Homo sapiens: one gene and its partner. The protein of the gene in region 1 interacts with the protein of each later gene in a pairwise test. Each region holds a gene or a part of one and is shown in the gene's direction. Other genes may lie near its edges.

Region 1 (3,840 bases):
AGGAATGGGGCCTGGCTTCCTCGTCGAGTGCGGCTGTCCGTGGGTTTCTGCTAGACAGATAACGTTCTGAAGGAGTTAAACTTTCACAGCTCCTCCTCCTCCTCCTCCTCCTCTATATCCCTTACCTCGCCACGTTCATCACTGGTCATTTTGCTGGAAGGGAAGCCCTGGTATATTCTTACATTGCTCTGGAAGTGAGCTTTAGCCCAGCGTCGCCAAACTTACACCTTAATTGATCCCAGATGAGAAGGAAAAGCTATTGCTCTTACCCCACAGTCTTCCCTCCCTGAGGCCAGAAGCAGGTCACGTGTAAAATGGTCTGCTCTCTGCTGACAGTGGCCTGAGTCTCCCATAGTGTCTGCTGAGCTGGATAGTCCCTCTCCAGGGAGCTTTGCAGGGGATGGGTGATGAGACATGGACATGGGGACGAATTCCTCTCATCTGGAATCGCAGACACAGCATGGAGATATGAGCACGCGGCATGGGAAATAGGCTTCCTCAGCCCTTCAGGATCAGGGAACGTGCCAGAGATGCAATGACATTTGGCAGCAGTTGAGAGTATGAGTGCTGTTGATGAAATAAACAGAGGCCTTTAAAAGCAAGGCAGGAAAAATGCTGGGACGAGTACAGGAACAGAAAACCAGCCATTTCTCCAGGTCTATTCAAAGACGTAGCAACACTCCCTGCAAACCCCAGGGCCTCATTATCACCACTCAGGGCAGTGGCCCCGCACAGCACCTGCACAGTTGCCAGAGGAGGCCTCTCTATAGGAAGTGCTGCTTTCTGTTGTGGATAGAGTGACTGGCTGGGCCTCTCTCTGTGTTTCTCCCCTAGTCTTCAGGAATATGAATGCCTTTTCCTTCAGTGCTACTAGGTGCAAATATGCGAGTTAAGGGACAATGCCAATAAAGTAGCCGCAGTTTCCTGGCTAAAGGAACTGTGCAGGTATTAAAAACCCACCGATCTTTAATCCAGGTTCGTGGCAGGGGGACTCCTTTTTGTTGCAAGATTGTCTGTGTGTGGAAACCCTGGAGAAAGGCCACACGTGCAGTCAGCAAGCCGAGTCACCAGGCACAGAGCCCTTTCTCCTGATCCCCTCCTCTTGTTTCTATTCCCAGGCCTCATTATGTATAATGTCACAGACACACACGCCCAGGAACATCCCATCACAGCCAGGACAGAAGCGCCAAGGGAGGTGCTTTGCACAGATTCCATCTTGGAGTTAGAAGCACTTGCTCGGTGCTTGCCAACTACAAATAGCCCCATGCTGGAAAATGATGCTAATTAGTATGCCATTAAAAAGGGTGGGGGGACCACCACCCACAACAAAATGGCCGTGTGCAGGCCTGAAGCCCTGCCCTGAGGGCCACAGGGAAGCATGGCCGCTAATGCAGCCTAATTCACTTTGTTTGGCAGAGAGAGCAAGCTCGCCATGTTGCTGCGGGAGTCTCTGGGGAACATGAACTGCCGTACCACCATGATCGCGCACATCTCGGCCGCGGTCGGGAGCTACGCGGAGACCCTGTCCACCATCCAGATTGCATCGAGAGTCTTGAGGATGAAGAAAAAGAAGACGAAGGTAAGGAGCTCGCGGGGTGGGGGGGTGGTGGATGAGGGAGCCTTTGGAGCCGTGCCCTGGAACAGAGTCAGAAAAAGCCAAATCAACGTTGCCAATCCCCCAGCATCAGGAGATGTGACTTGGAGCTGACAACACGTGGCTCAGGGTCCACTTTGGGGCAGGGAAACCTTGGGGCTGATACAAAGTCATGTCACCTCCCCACACCTGGTGCTGGCCCTGGTCACCCAGCCTGGACCCCTGACCGGAAGCACTTGGTCCGCTTTAGAGAGTACAAATGGATTGCTACCTCAAGAGGAAAAACGTTGGAGGGATGGAAAATATTGTTTTTCTCATGCATGGCCTCGGTCCTGCGTAGGTGGAGACTGTGTCCTTCGAAGGCTTGGCACCAAAGAGGTTCTCAACTCCCTGCTCTCAGGGCCCCTCCCCTGCTGCATGTCCAGGAGTCACTCCCTGGCTGCTGCTTTTGTCCTGGCAATTCAGTGGTTTCTGGATGATACTGAGTCTGCTGGACATCGCTGGGCTCATTTTCTCAGGCAGAGGCCAAGCCAGGATGGTGGCAGGGTGGCAAGTAGTTGAGAAAACCATCATGATCGTGGCCACTCAGTGGCAGGGGCAGCTGCTGAGGTGGGGGCCTTTTTCCCCCTTCTCTGTTTTGTACCTTTTTTATCTTTAAATAGCGTTTCTTAACCAGAGTTCCACGGCACAGGGTGCCAAACATTGGTGAGCCAGCAGCCCTTAGCTGGTCAGGCAGGGCCTGGATGGTCACCCCCTTTCCTGAGCAGCTGTTTCCCCAGCGTGCCACACGGGGCTTCCCCTTCACAAATGCAGTGGTGATGTGACACCGGGCGCGCGGGCATGGCACCCCGAGTGGCCCACGTGCGGGAGGCCAACGGGGGTGGCTGTCAGTAGCCTGTGTCGTCAGGGGCCTTCACCACTTGCCGCGCACAGCTGGGCTCCCGGGGAAACTGCCACGGAAAGGCCACCACATTAACTGCCGTCTCACTCACAGTACACATCCAGCTCGTCCGGCGGGGAGAGCTCCTGCGAAGAAGGCCGCATGCGCAGGCCCACCCAGCTGAGACCCTTCCACACCAGGGCCACGGTGGACCCTGACTTCCCCATCGCTCACCTGTCCAGCGACCCCGACTACTCCTCCAGCAGCGAGCAGTCCTGCGACACCGTCATCTACATCGGGCCCAACGGCACGGCCCTCTCTGACAAGGAGCTCACCGACAACGAGGGCCCCCCAGACTTTGTCCCTATCGTGCCAGCCCTGCAGAAGACCCGGGGCGACAGCCGGCCCGCAGAGGCAGGAGAGGCTGCAGCCGGCAAGTCAGAAAGGGACTGCCTGAAGTGCAACACGTTTGCCGAGCTGCAGGAGAGGCTGGACTGCATCGACGGCAGCGAGGAGCCCAGCAGCTTTCCTTTCGAAGAACTGCCTGCTCAGTTTGGGCCAGAGCAGGCAAGCAGAGGCCCCCGGTTAAGCCAAGCAGCGGGGGCAAGCCCACTCTCTGAGTCTGATAAGGAAGATAATGGGTCCGAAGGTCAGCTGACCAACAGAGAAGGCCCTGAACTCCCAGCCTCCAAGATGCAGAGGAGTCACTCACCTGTGCCCGCCGCGGCACCCGCCCACAGCCCCAGCCCGGCCTCACCCAGGAGCGTCCCGGGCAGCAGTAGCCAGCACAGCGCCTCCCCACTCGTGCAGAGCCCCAGCCTCCAGAGCAGCCGGGAGAGCCTCAACTCCTGCGGCTTCGTGGAAGGCAAGCCCAGGCCCATGGGCTCCCCCCGGCTGGGCATCGCCAGCCTGTCCAAGACCTCGGAGTACAAGCCACCCAGCTCTCCTTCCCAGAGATGCAAAGTCTACACCCAGAAGGGGGTCCTGCCGTCTCCCGCCCCACTGCCTCCCTCGAGCAAGGATTCCGGCGTGGCGTCTAGGGAGTCCTTGCTGCAGCCCGAGGTGCGTACGCCCCCGGTTGGAATGAGCCCCCAGGTTTTGAAAAAATCCATGTCTGCTGGGAGCGAAGGGTTCCCGGAAACTCCTGTCGATGATGAGCAGCAGGCAGCTACTCCTTCAGAGTCCAAGAAGGAGATCCTGAGCACCACGATGGTGACGGTGCAGCAGCCACTGGAGCTGAACGGTGAGGACGAGCTGGTGTTCACGCTGGTGGAGGAGCTGACCATCAGCGGGGTCCTGGACAGCGGCCGCCCCACCAGCATCATCAGCTTCAACAGCGACTGCTCTGCACGGGCCCTGGCCTCGG
Region 2 (3,600 bases), on another chromosome or scaffold:
GTAGAGCTAACTTGGCTGAATCAGAGATCTGGATTTTGGGAACAGGCTAACCTGGTGAAAATCCCTGCTCCACTTCCAGGCTGTGCTTTTAAGGAATTTGGACATACTCCTTATCTTTCAGTACTTTGCTTTCCTTACCTAAAAGGAGGATAACATTCCTTCAAGGCTGTAAATAGAGTGCTGTGTGTAAAGCACTCGGCACAACGCGTTTGTGTGGGGGAGACACAGTATGTGCATAAGAATTGGTAGATGATGATGGTGATGTTTATGAAAATCCAATCATGAATAGCCGGAGGCCACTGTTGTCAACGAGTGATCCCTGTAACAGCGACGTTAGCTACACTGAGAACTTACACATGCACATTCTCAGGCCCATTGCAGACCTCCTGAAACGAGAACTCGGGAGGCAGGGCCAGGCAATTGGCACTTTGCCTGAAGCACTCACGTTTTGAGAACACCTGTCAGGTAACAGGGAACCACTGAAAGTTTTTGGACGGTGGAGGAATGCGATATAAATGACTGTTGATTCACTGGCATTAAAGTGCCTAACTACCGACTGGCTTCCGAGGTTGCCGGAAGAAACCTGTTGGTTGATCCTTAGTGATCTCCAGGTTACAAAATGCGGGTTGGTACTAAGGGCCCCAAACACAGTGCTCACCTACCGAGCGCAGCCAGGAGCGCAGCGCCAGACAATTACAGGAGCTGTTTTGGATATGGCCGGGCAGCCCAGCGATGCTCAGCGAATCCCACAACTACAACCACAACCGTACCACACATTTAGCCTGCAAAAGCAGAGAAAGGAAAAGAAAACCGTGCAGGGAAGCCGGAAACGAGGGACTTAAGGGTCTCCTCTCTAGGGTGTGGGAGAGTGGGGGATGGGGCGAATGGGGCGAGGAGGGGGCGAGGATCGAGGGAGGCCCCTCCTCCGCTCGGCAACACCGGGTTCGGGTCCCTCTAGAGCCGGGACGCGGCCGGCGGGACACACCCTTGCCCTGGGAGACGCGAGGGTCCATGGCCTCTTAGTGTCGGTCCAGCTCAGTTTCGTGTCATTTGTTGTTAGCGCGAGGTAGGGGCGTTTCCCCACCCCAGCTCCTCCCCGGGGAAATCCCAGCCCGCTTCCTCCCCGCTCCTGCAGTTTTCGGGAGCGCCGTGCGGGGTCGAGCGCGGAGGCCGCACCCTGGGCGCCGGGCGTCGTGTCGGGACCGCTGCCCGCGCTGCCCGCCGGCGCGGCCATTGTTCGAGCCCCACCCCTGATGAATATTCACGCCGCGCGGGCGCCTCGGCCCGCGCCCTACCCGGCAGGGCTCGGGGTGTGAGTGCGTTTCCGCCGGTTTTTCCTGCCTGAGGAGGAAAGGGGGAGCTGTTTTCTCTCTCCTCAGAATATATTTTTGGTGTCCCGTTTCTCCTCCTCCAGCGCCGCCGCCGCCCCCTCCCTCCCCACCTCGCTCCCCGCCTCCGCCTCCGCCTCCCGGGTTATCTTTGTCTCGCTGCCTCGCGCTCACTCGCTCAACTCGGCGCCGCCGCGGCCCCACGCTCCGGGCCCGTCCTCGAGGCGCGCGGCGCGGGGCGCGGGCGCCGGGGCCTGAGGCGGCGGGCGACGCCCGGGGGCCTGACGGCCGGCCCCGCGCCATGGTGTGAGCGCCGCCGCCCGTGCACGCTCCGTCCGCCCTCCGCGCGGCCCGGCCGGCAGAGAGCCCCGAGCGGCCCGAGAGCGCAGCCGAGCCCGCCGCCGCCGCCCGCGGCCCCGCGAGGAGAGTACCGGGCCGGCTCGGCTGCCGCGCGAGGAGCGCGGTCGGCGGCCTGGTCTGCGGCTGAGATACACAGAGCGACAGAGACATTTATTGTTATTTGTTTTTTGGTGGCAAAAAGGGAAAATGGCGAACGACTCCCCTGCAAAAAGTCTGGTGGACATCGACCTCTCCTCCCTGCGGGTGAGTGGGCCCGCGAGCGGGCGCGCGGGGAGCGGGCAGCCGGCAGCCGGCAGCCGGGGCCGCGCCCAGGTCGGCCGGGCGCTCGGGCGCCGCCGTGGGCAGAGCCGCGGGGCGCGGCGGCCCCTTTGTCTTCCTGTGCGGGCTGGTGCGGGGCGGGCGCTACCCTCTACCGCCCCCACGCCCCGAGCCCGCCGCGCGACCCCCGGGCGCTGGGGGACCGCGCGGGGCGAAGCCCACCTCTTTTGTCACCGCCTTTTCTCTCCAACTGCCTTGCTTGATTTATTCATTTTTTTGGCTTCTTTTAAATGATAACCCCTCCCCTCCTTCCTCTCCAGGATCCTGCTGGGATTTTTGAGCTGGTGGAAGTGGTTGGAAATGGCACCTATGGACAAGTCTATAAGGTCGGTGTGGGCGCCTTCTTTGTTTCCCGTGGCATGTGGAAACTTCTTATTGGGGGACGAGGAGAGGGTGATAAACATGCTGCTGACTGGAGGCCACGCCGCTTGGCCAAAGTTGGGAGAGGGGTTTCTTTCGCCTTGCAGTCCCTCTGTTTTTGCACACCGAGTTTATATTCAGACTGGCCTTAAAAGACCTCATTTCCTGGCTTTGAGATAAGGAAATAAGCTACACTCTTAGGCATGCACTTTACTTCGATAAAATGGAAAAGCATTTTTTAAAAATAAGACAACCTGAATTTTTTCTTTTTTTCCCCAAATCCGGCCTTCTGAGTTTGTGTGTAAATTGAAATACAGTGGAGGCGGGCCTTGCCTCTGACGATCCTAAACCACTGCTTTGGCCATCGTGAAAATTGTCATCATGTTTCAGCCTCCACTCAGTGCTTGCCAGTTGCTCAAGGTGGGGAGTTTGGCGTTACCTGGGAATACTTTATAACTGTGGTTGTCATCCTTTCTATTGATGGATACGTATTTTGGGGAAGCAGGGAGGAGTGTGTGTTTGGGCAACAGCAGCAGGAAGAATTACAGTGTGGGGATTATAAAATCTGAATTCCAGGAATAACCTGTTTGACAGCTGTGTAATTGAAACAGAAATGACAGAGAGCGAAGAGAATATAGAGGATGCCCTGGTTTACACCCACCCAGGTCTTTCTCTTTTTTCAAAATTTTAACACCCACCCTCCACCCCAGCGATAAATGAAACTAGCAAATCTGGAGACTGAGTCTGCGCTGAGTAGCTGACACCTGATGTGACTAACAGTGTTCATTTTATACATTGTACAGTCTAGAGATTATGAAAGATGTGTAGGGAATGGAGGCGCAGGCCTTGAAAATTCAGAACGGAATGTTAAATTTTTCCTGTCTTAATTTGTTTCTCAATACTGAACGTTTTCTAAAAGTTTAATCTGCACTGGGGGAGTGTTCTGTTAGAGTCGGTACAAGGTTAGGGAAGCAGGGCTCTGTGGTTCACCATGAAGAATTGTCATTGTCTCATTAAAAATGGGTGGAGTTGGGGGGGTTGGAAGCCGACTGTAGACCTTTTCTTAGGCTAGATTAAGTGTGGATCTTATTGTCTCTTTTCTGCGTTGTGAGTAGAGTTTATCTATCACTTGAACGCCTCTCCTTAGCCTAGACTTCTAGCCTGGGTAGTGTACTGTACTGGACTGTGGTCCGAACTTGGGTCAGTATTCTTAGGTGATCTCAAGTGTATTAGC

Evidence for each region. Proteins that work in one complex are often made in the same cells at the same time.
Region 2: the proteins of KIF26B (region 1) and MAP4K4 interact in a two-hybrid assay, tested with the Homo sapiens proteins (one large-scale study listed by BioGRID and IntAct).

Annotation. Positions count from the first base shown.
Region 1 is NC_000001.11:245,682,817-245,686,656, forward strand, and holds part of KIF26B (kinesin-like protein KIF26B), read left to right. Parts: exon of another isoform or gene 1-1,416; coding exon 1,417-1,579; exon of another isoform or gene 1,580-1,635; intron 1,636-2,588; coding exon 2,589-3,840. UniProt on the Homo sapiens protein: Essential for embryonic kidney development. Plays an important role in the compact adhesion between mesenchymal cells adjacent to the ureteric buds, possibly by interacting with MYH10.
Region 2 is NC_000002.12:101,696,207-101,699,806, forward strand, and holds the start of MAP4K4 (mitogen-activated protein kinase kinase kinase kinase 4), read left to right. Parts: upstream 1-1,500; 5' UTR 1,501-1,874; coding exon 1,875-1,931; intron 1,932-2,058; exon of another isoform or gene 2,059-2,236; coding exon of another isoform or gene 2,237-2,266; coding exon 2,267-2,332; intron 2,333-3,600.